Regions from separate parts of the Homo sapiens genome. Here region 1 is reported to be linked to region 2. The links are microRNA targets in miRTarBase. Many come from high-throughput screens and were not tested one by one. Region 2 holds a microRNA gene; the other region holds the end of a gene's coding sequence.

Region 1 (3,531 bases), not on the chromosome of region 2:
AGTTGTCCCATGCTTTGAATTGCTTTTTAAGCATTACGGTGAGGTGAGTGTAAGCCTGAGGATCTTACTTTCTGGTATACCATTTATTACAACAGATTTCTAAAACTCCTATTAAATAAAGTTGATGGCAGAATAGATTTCTGTCACACTTCACTATCGTGTAGTTTTTGTAACTATTTCTTTTCAAAATCTAGTCTTTTTAAAAATTTTTTTAGGAATTTAAAGCTCCTGGCCTGGCGCGGTGGCTCATGCCTCTAATCCCAGCCCTTTGGGAGGTTGAGTGAATCACTTAAGGTCAGGAGTTGGAAGACCAGCCTGGCCTACATGGCAAAACCCTGTCTCTGCTAAAAATACAAAAATGAGCTAGGCATGGTGGCACATGCCTGAAATCCCAGCTACACAGCAGGCTGAGGCAGGAAAATTGCTTGAACCCGGGAGGCAGAGGTTGCAGTGAGCTGAGATTGTACCATTGCACTCCAGCCTGGGTGACAGTGGGACTCCGTCTTCAAAAAAAATTTTTTTTCAACATTTAAACCTATTGTTTTAACCTTATTTTTATTCTTCCCACAGTGGAATCTCTAGCGTTGTCACTCATGGCTGGCATGGAACAAAGTTAAATGTCTTCAGCGTAATAAATATCTCCGACTTTGTCATCATACATGTACATTTCCACCATGTGCAGCTGAAAAGTGAAAATATTTTTATTTTGGTTTATTTGTAAAACTTGTCCACAGTCAGCCTGGCACAGTCGCTCATGCCTCTAATCCCAGCACGATGGGAGGCCAAGACAGGCAGATCACTTGAGCCCAGGAGTTTGAGGCCAGCCTGGGCAACATGGTGAAACCCGGTGTCTACCAAAAATACAAAATGTATCCAGACATGGTGGTGTGTACCTGTAGTCCCAGCTACTCAGGAGGCAAAGATGGGAGGATTACTTGAGCCCAGGAGGTCAAGGCTACAGTGAGCCATGATTGCACTACTGCAGTGCAACCTGGGTGACAGAGTGAGACCCTGACTCAGAAAGAACCACTTGCCCACAGTCCAGACAGATGGATTGTAGGTGGGTTTTCTGGAGATTAGTAGATACTGTATAGAGTTGTATACATAAAATTGTGTCAGTAGTACAAAGTGTATATAGGCTGTTTACTCTTACATTTCCTACTGTAAGATACAGATTTATGGTACTGATACCTTTAAATTATATCATATTTTGAAAATGTAATTACTGATATTCAAAATAAATTAAAGGACTTAAAATCATTTTATTATCCTTTTGCTGCTGTCCTACAGTCACAGAAGCTTTTTATATAGAGTTTTACATGTTGTCTTCCCTAAAAGTTGTCTTAGATGTAGCTGTCCTAGAAATGTTTATATTTTGGCTGGGTGTAGTTTCTCAAGCTTGTAATCCTGGCACTTTGAAAGACTGAGGTGAGAGGATTCCTTGAGGCCAGCAGTTTAAGACCTGCCTAGGCAACATATGAGACCCCATCTCTCCAAAAACAACTTAAAAATTAGCCAAGGGCTGGGCACGGTGGCTCACCCCTGTAATCCCAGCACTTTGGGAGGCCGAGGTGGGCGGATCATCTGAGGTCAGGAGTTCAAGACCAGCCTGGCCAATGTGGTGAAACCCCGTCTCTACTAAAAATACAAAAAAATTAGCCAGGTGTGGTGGCCCACATCTGTAATCCCAGCTACTTGGGAGGCTGAGGCAGGAGAATCACTTGAACCCAGGAGGCAGAGGTTGCGGTGAGCCTAGATTGTACCACTGCACTCCATCCTGGGTGACAGAGCAAGACTCCGAAAAAAAAAAATTAGCCAAGCATGGTGGCACATGCCTGTGGTCCCAGCTACTTGGGAGGCTGAGGTGGGAGGATCGATTGAGACCGGGAGGTCAAGGCTGCAGTGAACCATGATTGCATCACTGCACTCCAGCCTGGACAACAGAGCAAGACCTTGTCTCCAACAAAAAAAAAGAAAGAAAGAAATGTATATATGTTTTGTTGTGCCTGAGAAGTTCTACATGGAAAATAGCTTCAACTGATAGCGATAAATGTAAAAGGCCAACTTCACTTAGGGCCAACTGTTGGTACATACTATTGTTTGGTATTTCCTTGTTTTTTGAAATGTGGAGGCTCACTCTGTTACCTAGGCTGCAGTGCAGTAGCACGATCTCGGCTCACTACAACCTCTGCCTCCTGGATTCAAGTGATTCTCCTGCCTCAGCCTCCCGAGTAGCTGGGATCTCAGGCGTGCACCACCACGCCCAGCTAATTTTTGTATTTTTAGTAGAGACAGGGTTTCACCTTGTTGGCCAGACTGGTGTCGAACTCCTGGCCTCAGGTGATCCACCCGCCTTAGCCTCCCAAAGTGCTGGGATTACAGGCGTGAGCCACTGTGCCTGGCAATATTTCTGAGCAATTTTTGTGAGCTAACCAGTTATATTTTGAATAGAATTATGCTTACTATTAAATTTTTCCATATTTTCTTTTTATAGAGTGAGACTATCTTTAAAAAAAAAAAAGGCCACACATAGTGACTCATGCCTGCAATCCCAGCACTTTGGGAAGCCAAGGTGGGTGGATCATGAGGTCAGGAGTTCGAGACCAGCCTGACCAATGTGGTGAAACCTTGTCTCTACTAAAAATACAAAAATTAGCTGGGCGTGGTGGCACACACCTGTAATCCTAGCTACTCAGGAGGCTGAGGCCAGAGAATTGCTTGAACCTGGGTGGCCGGAGGTTGCAGTGAGCTGAGATCATGCCACTGCACTCCAGCCTGGGCGACAGAGCGAGACTCTGTCTCAGAAAAAAATAAGAAAAAGAAAAAAAATATGAAAGCTAGAACTGGAAACAACAAAATGTGGAAGTTAGGACTAGAAAGCTTCTAGAAGCAAACATGGGAAATTAACACTACAAACTTGGGGTAGACAAAGATTTCTTACATAAAATCAAAAAAGGGGCCGAGCACGGTGGCTCATGCCTGCAGTCCCAGCACTTTGGGAGGTCAAGGTGGGTGGATCACCTGAGGTCAAGAGTTCCAGACCAGCCTGACCAATATGGGGAAACCCCGTCTCTACTAAAAATACAAAAATCAGCCGGGCGTGGTGGCGCACACCTGTAGTCCCAGCTACTCAGGAGGCTGAGACAGGAGAATCGCTTGAACCTGGGAGGCAGAGGTTGCAGTGAGCCGAGATCACACCACTGCACTCCAGCCTGGGTGACAGAGCAAGACTCCGTCTCAAAAGGAAAAAAAAAAAGGAATTATTGGTGAATTGGACATCACCAAAAAACATTGCTAGGAAAATGGTAATACAGGCCACAGACTGGGAGAGAACATTTCCCCTTAGCCCCTTTCAGGAACCATGTCATGCCCAGAGGCAACCACTGTTGCCCAGGGTGTCCAGAAGTAACTATGTTCAGAGTGTATGAAGGCATTTTAAATTAGTAAGACAAGCTTTTTTTTTTTTCATTGATGCAAGGTCTTGCTTTGTTGCCCATGCTGGAGCGCATTGGCACAGTCTTGGCTCACTGA
Region 2 (3,000 bases):
TGATGTTAGGGAAAAGGTCTACAGTGAAACAGGGAAATTGTGTAAAAATAAATTAGGGAATGTGTGGCCAAATTTAGTCTCAGTGAGACCCACAGAAGCTGTGTGTATGTGCACATACAGTTTGGTCATGGCTTACTAATCATGACAGCATTATGTCTGTCTTTCTCTCTCTCACACATATTACACAAACAGATTCCACTGTGAAGTTTTTCTATGTAGATAGATATTACTGAAAAACCAACAGCAAAAGGTTTGTTAATTTCCACAGAGGGGTATCACGCAAACAGCAAAAACATGGGAATTGAGAAACCTAAAAAACATTTTTCTTTTAAAGATACAGTTTCACTGCAGCTCACTGGCAGTATTCATTATGTCTGTGACTCAGCTATAAAAAAGGAATGAGCAATACCTGCATCTTTGGAGAAAGTTAATCTTAAAAGCAGCTTTGATTACTTAGGAAATTACTTAGGAAGCATAGGCATTAGGGCCAGTCACACACAGATCCTGACTCTCACTACCTATCGTGGGTAAACTGCTTAACCTTTTGAAAATTAGGGTAAAATCATCTACCCAATGAGAGTGTTGGAAGGATTAAATAAGATGACTAAGGAAGCGATCTTGGTACATTCTAAGTATTCAGTACATGTCAGTACATGTCAGATGCTGTCATGATGGCAAAAGGCCAGGTCATGATGGCAAAAGGCCATTACAATAATCGCCAAACAGAGAATATTCACAAGGCCTCGAAAAGCAGCCAGCACAGAGTCAGCATTCATTTTATTGAATGATAGAATGAATTCCATATCCATGGATGACAAATAATGATACATCAGAGCAGGAAGGCAAATAAAATTACAGGAATAAATGGACCCTGTAGCCTTTCAACTAACTACAAACTCCAGACAACCTAGTCCTCTAAAGGTCCTGCTTCATGCTCATTATCTTCTTCTCATAGTTCAAACAACCCTGACAATATTAAGGGATGGCATTTTAAAATTATTCTCTAAAAGCCTAATGACTGGTTTGGTCTAAGACCCAGGGAGGCCACCCAAGAGGCCTGAGCTCATAGCATGTGGTTAAACTGCAATCTACTCCTCAAATTCGAAAGAGAAAGCAAATGAAAAAGAAGCAAGGAAAGCTAAAAAGATTCTGTAGTTGGCTGAAAAATGATCTATAGTTAGGCTTTGCCCCTATCCAAATCAGAGTGGGGCTGTTTCTTGAATGTCAGAACTGAAGTGTCTTCTTCTCTCACACTTTTCTTAGCTCATTTCCCAATCACTTTCTTGGTGGAGTCTCTCTTTGCCAAAAGGACATGCCCGTCAATCAACACACACTACTTATTTGTACCTGTCTCGACGCCCTCCCCATCACTATCTATTCCTACACCACACTGTCATTAGTGCATATTTCTAAGGTTCAAAATTTTACAAGATTCTTGTCCTATAAGAGCGATTTTCTGCTTAACACTACCAAATTGATCAGTCTGTGCTGTGTATATCAACCATTCCCTCAAGCCAGCCAAATTTGATTAAATGTACATTTGTCTATGCATTATTTTGTAACTGCAAGCCTTGCCTATGTTGTTTTCTGGCACATGTTAGGCAATTGTCTGTTTGTCAGTTATTACCTACTACATACCAGACAACAATATAGGCTAATCTATAGCTTTCATGTCTTTCAAAGGCCATGCCCATCAAGGCCCCTCTATACCATAACTGTACACTGTGGGTGCTTGGGAAGGATGGCTATTTCACTGGCTCACTATGAAATCACCAGCTATTTCACTAGCTCACTGTGAATCCAGGCACCTAAAGCTGTTGTATGTATGCAATTTCAGTAAACTGCAGCAGTCAAATTTGGGAATTGCACTGGACACAAGGTCAAACTGACCTTGTTTAACTTCACATCAATATTAAAATAATGCATCACGTAAAATAAAGGTGTATGAAAATTCTAGTTTTCAAAATCCTGACTGACCACATTTGAAACCTTATGTTTGCATAGCACGCGTTTTTTTTTCAGTACTAGATGATAGTTATTAAATGATTTAAGGTCTTATTAATACTTCCTTTCCCAGACACAGCAGGCTAGGCTAGTCAGACAAACCCCTTGCTCTCTATTTAAAACAACTAAACTTCTCAACTTAAAAAATATCCTTAAAAGCATCAGAGGTGACAAGATAGTAAGAAGCTCTCAGGATAAAAATCTAAGGGAAACTAGGAACCCAGAGACCTAAGTAGAACACCACAGCTCCTTCTGGCCCAAAGGCATCTCCACCATGAGTTAATCTGGGTTTCTGTTTTGGCAGCCCCTGGAGGAAAGGGGGAAGAATCTAGGCCCAGTGCCTACCTAATGTGGAGGATATTATAGAAGACACTGCGCATATTAAGCTGGGACCCCAAGATATAACATCCATAGGATGAGTGTGTGCCATACATAAACCCTACCTCTACCCCCAATTCTGGGAAACTTCAGGGATGGTTGCCTTGACACTAAGCAGAAGAAGAGAAAAAGGGAAAGGAAAATAACACCATGAGAAGTTGTGGTAAGAGACCCACAACTGTGATCATGACCAAGGTGGTTACGGTCATGGGGAGTTAGCCCAGGTGGGCCTGGGAGTCATGGTAAGTCATGTGCTTGGTCTGGGGTGATCCTGGGCTGGGGTATCGTCCATGCCGGACAGGAGCATAAGCATAAACTCTCTGAGAGAATCATCATCTTCCTAGGCCTCAAGATTCTCCCTCCTTAATATTTCCTAAGAACAAAGAGTAGTACACAATTAAGCACACAAGGAAAAACAGGTTCCATGAATCAGAATCAGAAACACACCCGCAAATACTGGAACTGTCAAATACAGATTGTAAAACAACTATGCTTCCCCTATGTAAAAAAATAAAAGACCACATAAAAAGTATCTGCAAAGAACAGGAAACTATGAAAACTGAACAAGCAGGTTTTTAAAAGATGAAACAGAACTTTTATAAATAAAAATATATATTA

The links. The annotated mature microRNA hsa-miR-4774-3p reads AUUGCCUAACAUGUGCCAGAA and lies in region 2 at 1,586-1,606, opposite strand. An mRNA with a match to its seed (bases 2 to 7 or 8) in the 3' UTR can be bound and repressed. Matches are read on the target gene's strand: a 7mer-m8 pairs with bases 2 to 8, a 7mer-A1 pairs with bases 2 to 7 and ends in A, and an 8mer does both.
Region 1: miRTarBase lists TUBGCP5 as a target of hsa-miR-4774-3p. Seed matches in the 3' UTR shown: 7mer-A1 at 915-921.

The regions. Positions count from the first base shown.
Region 1 is chr15:22,996,906-23,000,436 of GRCh38, reverse strand. It overlaps TUBGCP5 (tubulin gamma complex component 5), which reads left to right. Exons shown (of 23, transcript NM_052903.6): 23 at 571-1,260. The coding sequence ends at 617. Among named protein-coding and RNA genes, the nearest start is that of CYFIP1, 18 kb to the right of the region's middle.
Region 2 is chr2:168,581,595-168,584,594 of GRCh38, reverse strand. It overlaps MIR4774 (microRNA 4774), which reads right to left and starts at 1,652; the gene lies at 1,577-1,652. The region is part of intron 3 of CERS6 (ceramide synthase 6); the gene reads right to left.